Regions from separate parts of the Homo sapiens genome. Here region 2 is linked to region 1. The links come from fine-mapping of genetic effects on gene expression. A gene starts in region 1. The other region holds a variant in brackets. All regions are shown on one strand. Distances are between the middles of the regions.

What was found.
Region 2: its variant is fine-mapped to the expression of CCDC149 in whole blood (INTERVAL, PIP 0.92).

Annotation. Positions count from the first base shown.
Region 1 is chr4:24,910,764-24,916,140 of GRCh38, forward strand. It overlaps CCDC149 (coiled-coil domain containing 149), which reads right to left and starts at 2,279. Exons shown (of 13, transcript NM_001395273.1): 1 at 2,054-2,279. The coding sequence starts at 2,101.
Region 2 is chr4:24,947,085-24,952,461 of GRCh38, forward strand. It overlaps a transcript of CCDC149 not described here. Among named protein-coding and RNA genes, the nearest start is that of CCDC149, 37 kb to the left of the region's middle. The variant G/A (reference allele first, on the strand shown) is at 2,944.

The DNA.
Region 1 (5,377 bases):
CCACTTACCAGATGTGAGGCTCTGTGCAAGTTCCTTAGCCTGTCTGAGCCACTGTTTCCTTATCTGTAAAATAAGAAAGAATTCCTACCTTATGTCATTGTGAATATGAGGCCATGTAAAATGCTTAATATGAAGGATGCACTCAAAAAATAGTCATTAGTTATTATTAAGGTGGGAAGTAAGTTAGACCCATTTTCACCTCCCCCATGGCCCCTGGCTACGTGCCCACCTCATGTTTGTGAAGTTAAGGAGGTATTACTCTGGAGAAACTCTGCTGGGATGGGCAGGAAAACTCCTGAAGGACCTACTTCAGGATTCACTGACTTATTCAACAAGCATTTTTCGAGCACCTGCTGCATACAGAGCTCTGTGTATAGGCCCTGGAATAAAGAACCAAACAAAGCACACGGCCTAGTGAGGAAGCCTATTGTTACAATAATGTGGTCAGGGCAAGGTGAAGGTTAAGCCCAGCCAACTGAGGGGCACCCCATGCCATTTAGCACTTGAAGCCTTTCCATCCTTTAGTTCACTCTCACTGTCTACGGTATGACCTTCCTCCCAGACTATATCATGAAACCCCCAGGAGTTCTTTGAGGGTAGGGGAGTTCTTTGTCTTATTCACCACTGAATCCCAAGCACCTCACAATGTACTGACTCCTAACAGGCACCTGATATGCAATTGTTGGAGTAGTGAAGATTCTGCTGCTATTTAAGGGCCTAACACTGGACTTCTAAGGAGAACTACCTCCAGCCTCCTTGACTACTAAGTATGATTCTTGATGGGACCAGAAACAAGGTCCCCAGAGGATCTGCCCCTTAACATAAAGCCTGACAGTTTGAGAAGATGGAGCCAGGCTGCAATACAATGGATCATAACACCAGACAGTTAGGAGAGCTTTCAACTACTAGACCAATGCTGAGCAAACTAAACTAGGGCAGGAGCTACCGCATGTCATTCCTCTTCAGAAACACAACGCTCTGCACACACTGGGCATGAAGCACTATTATCAGACTGACCTGGAGACCCAGAAAACGATGAAAGGAGTGAGGGAGTAGAGGGTTTCCCTTCCCATAACCCACAAGGAAAGGAAAAGAGCAAACCGATACACTCTGCATTGTGTGCACAGGATTAAAGAAAAGGAAGCCCCAAGTTGGCCTTGGCTGGAGCTTGGTTCTCAGAAGGGAGAAATTCCCCGGCATGGGTAAGTAACACCAGGAATTGCCCCCACAAATGGTGGCAAACCAGGGCAACTTACCTGGTTGCCTCCAGGTGAGAGGGAGAAATCCGCATTCCCTCTCACCTGGAGAGGCCGGCAGCTTCTCCCGGCAGGCCGGCAAACTCTTAGGGGGAACTGAAGAGCAAACAGCATAGGATCCTGAAAGTGGACCCCCAGGGTATGTTTATGACAAAAGAGTCGCAGGGCAGGGGGACACGGTGTTCTGTGCTTCCACAAATCGAATCACTTCTGCACCTGTGTTTCACTTTTTCGATAAATGCCCCTCCCCACCTTACACATGGTAGGCCTGCAGTAAACACGTGTTGATTGAATTGAGCAAGTGAATGAGTGAACGGCTGCAGCGGACCCCCGAACTCCCCCAACTCGAACCACCGCCGCAGGTAATTCCACCTGGCCCAGGTTCCACCCCAGGGCTCGGATTCTCCCCCATGGCACCACCTTCCCGTTTCAGTCCCAGGCGTCCAATTGTTTGGCTCCACAACAGTGGCGAGCGGGCAGGCAGGTGGGGCTTGGCACCTTCTGCTCCCGGATCCCAGGGCTTCAGCCTCCAATCCAGGGCCAACCCCTGCCTTGGGGGGAAGGCCCCTCCCCAAAGGCTGACACCAGATGGCGCGGAAGAAAGTGGCGCCCGCGCAGACCCGAAAGTGCAGGAGGAGCGGCGCACCTGGCGGGGTCGCGCGGGTGCGGCAGCCGCGGCCACTTGGAGTGCGCGCCCCCCTCTCGTCCCTCCCAGCTCGGCCTCTCTGGGGGCGCGGGCCCGGGGCTGGCGGCCGCTCGGCCCGGCCCATCCCGCCTGGCCGGCGCCGCGGCCTCACCTCGCTCACCAGCCCCTGCCAGTCGCTCTCAGTCCGGTCGCCGTTCATGGCCTCCTCCTCCATGCGCTGGCCGGCCTCCTGGACCCCCGCCGCCTCCTCCTCCTCGCGACGTCGCGTCGCCGCCGCCGCCCGGGCCCCGCGCGGCCCCGAGAGGGCCCGGCGCCTCCGAGCCGCTGCGCCGCCGCCTCTCGCGGCCGCCAGCGCTGTTGACTCCACGTCAGCCTCCGCCGGAGGGAAAGGGAGGAGGGGCGCGGCCGCCGGGGCCGCAGACACAGCCCGGGCCGCAGCCGAGCCCCGCCGGGCCCGCCCCGCGCCCTCAGCCCCGCGACCTCGGGCTCCGCGCCTCCTGCCCGGCCTCTAGGCAAGGGGAAGCCAGGGTCTCAGCCTACAGGTCACTCCGGACCCCTCAGCGCTCTCCGCGCGGGAGGCGGGCCCCACGGGCAGGCCTGTGTCCCCCGCAAGAAGCAAATCCCCAAATCCAGTCCTTCTCCGACCACCATCACGACTCCCACGCCTAGAATGCAAGCTCCCCGAGGGCAGGGGTTTCCTTGGTTCGCAGATGTGCCTTTGGCAAGATCCTGGCCCATAGGAGATGCTCTACATATATTTATTGGACGAATATTTGTTGAACGCAAGAATGAATGAACCACGTTTTATTATATACTTAGCATTGTTTTTTAAACTATTAGTGCTTGCTTATATATTTTTTAACGTATCATTTGTCATTAATAGAAAGCAAATGTAAAAATTGAAAATAAAGCATTATTCAATTCTAAATAGGGCCAAAAACTCTGAGGGAGATGGTTAGCATGGGTTGAGAGAGGTGTCAAAGACAAATTGGCACTGGTGGCATTCCATGGCTCATGCCTGTAATCCCAGCACCTTGGGAGGCTGAGGCAGGAGGATCCCTTGAGGACAGGAGTTCAAGAGCAGCCTCGGCCACAAAGTGACACACCCCCTCTTTACAAAAAATAAAATAATTAGCAAAAGGGGAAGGCATTGGCATTAAGCTGAGACTTCTCCTAAGAGGAAAGACTGAAAGAGAATGACAGAGGGAAGGTGAATCACACACATAAGTCAATCGTATTCAAGGTGCTGTTCCTGTGACACCTAAAATCCCCTCTTGGACCACTATCAATAGTGAGCCCTCTGTACTCGCAGAAACGCTGTGTGTGGAGATGAGCAAGTAGGTTGAGAAGTTGTGAACCCATTGTACAGTTGTGGAAGCATCATTACCAACATTTATTTATAATTTTTAGCCCCTGTTGATCCTGGATCAACCCTGTGAAATGGATGTTATCCTCATTTATTAGATGGGGAAACTGAGGCCTGAAACGTGGAGAAACAGGGACTCAACTAGGACTTCTGGCTCTAGCATCTTGGAAATCTAAGAATGAAGTATCACCTTGAAAGTTTGTTCTTGGCCTTGTTTTGCACATGATAGACTGTTTGCAAAATGGCAGCAATCATTCCCCTTCTTTGTCCCTTGCCCTGCCACTGTCTCTTTCACTCTGTGCTCAGTCATGTAACTTGCTTTGACCAAAGCAACGTTTGTACATGTGTTACCAGAAAAAAAAAAAAAAAAAAAGAAAAAAAAAGGCTTTTAAAGCAATTGTGCATTAGGATTTAACTCTTGCTTCTGCTCTTGGAAACCATGTAAATAAGCTCCGAATAGCTTGCTGGTTAAGGTAGGATTCCCAACCAACAGTCAACCATCACCAGATGTGTGAGTGAGGCCATTGCCTGCCGCCCCCTCCACGCCCCCCCACCCCCACCCGCACAGCTGATGACAAGCACATGAGTGAGCCCAGCTGAGACCAGCCGAAGAACCATCCAGCTGAGCCTTGCTCAACTAGCTGACTCACAGCATCACATACTAAATAAGTAGTTGTAGTTTAAGCCACTAAGTTTTAGGGCGATTTGCTAGGTATCAACAGGTAACTGAAATGGATGGTGACACAACTGATGAAGGGCCTGAATGGCTTGAACTCTCCCTGGCAGCCCTTCAAAAAGCAATAGTCCCTGGCATCATAATCTAAAGAAAATTTTACAACGGACTGGCTGGCCAGGAGCTAAGAAAAGGAACCAGTATACTAGTCAGCACATTGGTTTTCTGCCTGTTGTATACAACTGCAGCACTCATCCTGGGGAAGTTCAATAACATTGCACACCATGGTCCCTGTCCTAGGGGGCTTGCAAACTAAGGTGCTAGAGAACAGCAGAAAAAAAGGTGGGGCTAGAATGCAGCTAAAGCTTCTGGTCTTCTGACCATTCTGGGCTGCCTAACTCATTATCTTTTTAATCTAAGGAGCTAGAAAGAAGGTCATCCTTGAGCTGAATGTCTAGAGTTAATTAACTCAGTGCCAAGCACTTGTTCCTAAGCCTGACGTCTCATGCCTAAAAAGCAAGGTACTGTCTGCCAATATATTGCCCTCTGGCAAACCATCTGTTTTCATCCTGACCTGTGGATAAATAGACTGTAGGAAAAGTGGGCAGAACTTGGTCCATCTGCCTTTCAAGCCTCCTTGTCTGCACCTTGCTCTCTGCCTGCATTCAGGTGGGAAAGCCCATTCCAGTTTCCACAGTTAGCTGAGCCCTTCATGATATACCACTGCTCCTTTGGCGCCCTCACTGGTATTTCAGGCAGCAGGACAGACAATCAATGAGCGTTGGGAGCCAAGAAATCTTCGCATTCCAGACTATGTGCCTTTAAGACCACTCTCCCTGTGACTCCATTTCCCCTATTTGCTTTCCTTCTCCGAAATAAGTCAGACAGTTATTACGGTATTTAAAAATAAAGCTGGGGAGCAAAATCAAAGTGTGGCAAGCCTCTACCCTCCCCAGCATGTGGGGAGACTTTCAACTCGGTTGAAACAGCATCTCTAGCTGCCTGGGTTTTCCTTAGAGGTTTCATGCCCCAAGTGCCAGCTCAAACCTGCTTCGCTTGTGAGATGTGATGAAATCACAAACCAAGGCAATGTAGCTGCAAGCAATTCTTTTTTATCTCTTTTCATTTATGTAGCCTGACATTGAGTAATAATAATAATTAAATGCAGTTTAAGCTTTTAGGCACCTATACCAGAAGGCCTCTAGACACCTCATCAACAGCAGCCCAGACTGACAAAAAAGAGAGCTAATTATATTGTGGTTAACTTTTTTCAAAGAAGAAATAAACCCATACACCAACTATCTTTATCCCTGATAAAAGCAGTACATTAAATGTCCCATCCGACAGTCCATTTGCACAGGATCATTTTAAAACCTGGTGCCCTTGTCTTAAATGTGCCACCCTGTTACAAAGTATTGAGACGTTTGCTTTAGCCT
Region 2 (5,377 bases), 36 kb after region 1:
TTCCCCCTTTATTAATTTACTAATGCATTGAAAGAATCTCAGCTGAATTTTCATCCTTGCTTTTTGCTTAGTGATATGGTTTGGCTGTGTCCCCACCCAAATCTCATCTCAAATTTTTGTTCCCATAATCCCCACATGTCATGGGAGGGACAGGGTGAGAGGTAATTTAGTCATGGGGGTGGTTACCCTCATGCTGTTCTCATGATAGTGAGTGAGTTCTCATGAGATCTGATGGTTTTATAAGGGGCTTTTCCTCTTTTTGCTTGCTGCCGCCATGTGAGGAAGGACATGTTTTCTTCCCCTTCTGCCATGACTGTAGGTTTCCTGAGGCTTCCCCAGCCATGCTGAACTGTGAGTCAATTAAACCTCTTTTCTTTATAAATTACCCAGTCTCAGGTATGTCTTTATTTGCAGTGTGAGAACGGACTAATACATGTAGAGAACTCCTCCCTCCTAACCTACAAAAAGTCACAGATGTCTATGTCAAACTGGACTCCCATGAAGTCCTCCCCACGTCTATCCTCCTCTTCCATGAAATCCAAGCCAGGGTTGCCTGAATCACCTCATCCTCAACAACATTTCTCAGAATAGGAAATATTCAAAATTTGCCACCACTCATCTTGTGGGCTTCATATAAAAAATACAAAATGCTACCTTTTAAAAATTAAAAAGCCAGTAAATTACCTTCCAAGATTCAATCTGAGTTTAGAAAATTCATTACAATGAAAAAAGAAGGAGGATTTTTTTTTTTATTGCAGATAGTTAGTGGCATTGATGGATTATGGCAGAGCCATCCGCAATATGGCCAAATAATTTCACTGGAGAGGATTTTATATAGCTACAGCTAAAATTCAATGAACTGATTCAGAAGACTCAGTATAAAATATAACAGTGACTTCGAGTGCCAAATCAATTTGGGGGCTTGAAGGGATAGGGAGAGCCTTCGTTCCCTCCCTGTTCATGGACGTTACTTTAACTGGAACTGTAAATTCACAGGCGTAGGAGTGGCAGGCAGTGGGCTACGGCAGGTGATTTAAGAAACCTATCCTGAAAAATCAGAAAGTGGTTGCAAATAGCTGTCCTTAGAGAAGCGTGTGACTCTGAAGTACATCCAAGAGAGAAAGTTCAAAGGATGTTCTCGAGGACAAATTAGGGATTTGCCATCAGGTGACAAGGGTTCTAGGTTTACAAATGGATCAACTTGAGTCCTTGTTTTCTACCTCAATCTCCACCCTTGTGAAATAAAAAGGTTGATGCAGAATAACGGCTTTCACAATGTTGGTTATCTTTGTCTTTTTAATAGTAGGAGGCTTTTTGCTCATGGATTCATCCTACTCTGCTGGATTTTCACTTTGCCTCTGCAGACCCATGCTCCAGCATTCTCACCCTGCTCTTGCTCCACAATGCTGAGGACTGCATTATTAAACTCCCTTGCCGGCCAGCTTCCACTCAGGTTTAGCCAGCAGGAGGTGCCCATAGAAGATTGGAGGATGAAATAAGATAGAGGGCAGGATGTTGACACCTACAACTCCCTCCCTCCCAGGCCACTGGTTGGCAGTGGCAGTGCTCCTGCCCAGTGTCCTCCTTCCACCATATCTCTCTTTTCCTCTCTCTGGGTTCCAGAATCATCCGTGATATGGTTTGGCTGTGTCCCCACCCAAATCTTGAATTGTAGTTCCCATAATTCCCACATATTATGGGAGGGACCTGGTGGGAGGTAATTGAATAATGAGGGTGGGTCTTTCTTGTGCTGTTCTTGTGATAGTGAATAAATCTCATGAGATCTGATGGTTTTATAAAGGGGAATTTCCCTGCACAAACTCTCTCTTTGCCATCCACTATGTAAGATGTACCTCTGATCTTCGTTCATCTTCCGCCATGATTTTGAGGCCTCCCCAGCCACGTGAAACTGTGAGTCAACTAAACCTCTTTCTTTTATAAATTACCCAGTCTCTGGTATGTCTTTATCAGCAGTGTGAAAACAGACTAATAGAATCCCCTAATCCTGCCCATTCAGACAAGGGTAGCAACGGCTGTTGTTAGCCTCCAGGGCTTCATCATGCCTTTGGGGTTTCCTGGAACACTGTCCATTCTGTTGGAAATAACCTCTTCATTAAACTCTTCTCAAGACCCCACAGAAATGTGGCATCTCTTTCCTGCTGGGACAGATGCACTCGGAGACTTCTTAGGTAAAACAGACCAGAGAGGCTCTGCCCTGAATGTAGCTGGGGCTTCCGTGCACACAGTATGCCCCACCCTCATGCGTTTACAGGGACCTGATCCTGTGCAGAAAGACACTTCCAGCTTCTGAGATTCCTTCCAAATTGTCAGCTGTAGAGAGGTAGTGGTGGCAGGGAGGGGGGGTGGTGGGGGGACTCCCTCATCTGTCATTATTCAAATATATTGAGCTCCTATATTTGTTTATTCACTCATTCAGCTAACACCAGTGGAGCACCTCTACTGACCCAGATGCTGTGCTAGGTTCTGAGGTTAAGGGGTAAATAAGATAGAATTCCTAGTCTCAAGGGGCTTACACACATTTGCAAACACACAAGCCAACTACGAAAACCTCAGAGCCAGAAAGAAAGGGCCCTGAGATATTTCTCATCCACAGCAGCACTGAGGCCAGGAAAGCAGGACTCGGGCTCTGTCAACCTGAGAGAAAACAGCAAGAACAGTGCATTGTGGAGTTAGGATCTAATTCCCTGCGTGGGAAGGAAGTGGCAGGCAGGAGAATAAGACCAGTGGGATCTTTCCCCAAGATGTTGTCAGGGATTCATCCGTGGACTCCCCGGGGCCTGTGACTAAGGTGGGTGGTTGCTTTAGGAACCTGCAGGTGCACAGAGGGGACAGCAGAGGTGGCCGTGAAGAGAAGGATGGCGACAGAGGTCATAGGTTATGCCAAGGATCAGAGAGTTTGGCTCATACCAGAGGCACATGGCT[G/A]AAACCATCTGTGTGTAACAGCCATCTCTGCAGGGGTCACCCCTGACCTGGAAACTCAAGAGAGAAATTGTTGTCCTGGTAGAAACTGGTAAGGACAGCCTTGACATTCCTCAGCCTCATGAGGTGGCAGAGAGAGTATGCCAGAGCCCCTGTCTATATCACAGTGAGAATGCAAAGGCTGTGAGCATGAACTCTGGAGCCAAACTGCCCAGGGCTGAATCCAGTCTTTGCCACTTGCTGCCAAGTAATACTATTTTTGTTTTCAGCCTTCTCATCTGTGAAGGGTGATTCTAATCCAACCTCATAGGTGGGTTGTGAAAATGTATTTAATTAGTATCTGCAAAGCACTTAGCACAGTGCCTGACACAGAGTAAGCGCAATGCAAATGTTAGTTGTTATTACTCAACATCACTTTACTATTTTCATTTCAGTATGGACCCCAAATCGAGTGGACTCGGGGGTGGGAATATGGCTGCTGGGAATGAGCAGAACATTGGAAGGGGAGTGGAGAATCCCAGCCTTTGGAGTAAGACAAAGATTTAAATCTAAACCCTGCCATGAGCCAGCTCCATAATCTTGGCAAGCACTTAGACCTTCTCCAATCCTCAGTGTTCTCATCTATGAAATGGGGATAATTATCGTACTTACCCCTTAGGGTGGCAGTGGAGGGTAATAACAAGTTCCTTTATTTTTCATTTACTCATTCATTCACGTATTCAATAAACACATTTTTTCCCCACCATACAAGCTATGTTTACTAAGGAAACAAACTTCTTTCCCAATTCAGGGGTCTGGGGCCTGTGTAGCCACCATTCAGAACCTCTAATAAGCAGGACCTGGCCAACGTGGCCACAGGAAGTTGACTTAATGAGAATTAAGTCTTCTCATGTCTTGACTGGCTGCTCCCTGTGTTCCTCAAATCTAGCATTTGGGAAACAGATTCCCTCAACATCATAGCTCAGCATCTATGTATCTTTGGGGACCCCTTTAGGTTAAAAAGCAGGTGTTGTCAAGCTGGGGGAGTGGGGAAGGGGGCCTCAGGCAGGGATACACAGGAAATCGCTACCTGCAGTGGGTGATCACCACATGTGTGGGTTCCGTGGGTGCCCAGGCTGTCACCCGGGCTGCAGGCAGCAAGTGACAGATCCCATGCATGCCTCCTCATTTAAATTCATTCCACAGTCCAGATCTGCCTACACCCAAGGAGCCTTCAGGGCAAGCTGCCCCGAATGTTTCCATTCAGAATCATGCATCCCCTCTCATTTTTGGAAGCTTTTAAACTTCAGGGTGGACAGCGTGGCCCTTGGGAATGTGCTTTCATGCATTAGGAGTCGATTTTAAACAGCAAATATGCCATAGTCAGTCATAGAGGTAAATAATAATACAACTTCAAAAGAGCAGAGCACAAAAGAGAGGCTATTATTAATGGGAAAAATAATTTTAAAGTCATATTAAAAAGCCTCAAGTCTAGTGGAAAAAGCCAGGAAATGGGAACAAAATTAGCATTATTATAGCTTTTCATGGTAACTTACTCTGGGTTTTTCTGGTGGCTTAAAAAAAGCAGAAAAGAAGGGAAAAGCTGACTGATAACAATTTATCCGACCAAATACATTTCCCATCCCAAATGCACCTGTGATAGTGACTGTATTTAAATTGTTTCCTTTTTATATCTGTTTTGTGGCCATTTATACCTCACAGTGTTATTAGAGAAAGCAGCATTTTGTGTGGAATGGTAAACAGTAAAGCTCTTTGAGGCCTTTCAGAAAGAAGTGCAATTCGAGGGGCAGGAATTATTATTATTAATTTGCATGTTAATAATCCAAATCTTCACTAAAGCCCACACTGCAGATGCACCCTCTGAAACTCCGCAGAGGTAAGTGCTGTATATTAATGGGGCACCTTTGGTCTTAGAAGAAAAGGAGTTTCTGTGAAGGACGAGACCTTTTCCTTTCTCAATTTTGAAAGGAGAGTCCTCTTTTTGTTGGGTGCTCATTGCCTTTGCTTCAGTTAAACTGTTCCCTTCTCAGATCATCCTCTTTCTCATCATTTCACATAAAGTCCCCAACAATTTCTCTCAATTAGGCTTTAGGGCACTCACAACCCCACTCCTCTGGAAGCATGGTGAAGCATACGTGTACACATCTGTGTGCAGTGTGTGCTAACGTGCACGCCTCAAACCTTCGGCTTTGTTTATACATATGTGTATTCTATTATTAATGGTTTGGAGCCATTTCAGTTCTGAAGTAGGCGAAATTTAAGTTACTTTTTAAAACATATTTTTTGGCTGGGTAAGGTGGCTCATCCCTGTAATCCCAGCATTTTGGGATGCCAAGGCAGGAGGATCACTTGAGGTCGGGAGTTCAAGACCAGTCTGGCCAACATGGTGAAACCCCATCTCTACTAAAAATACAACAATTATCCAGGCATGGTTGCA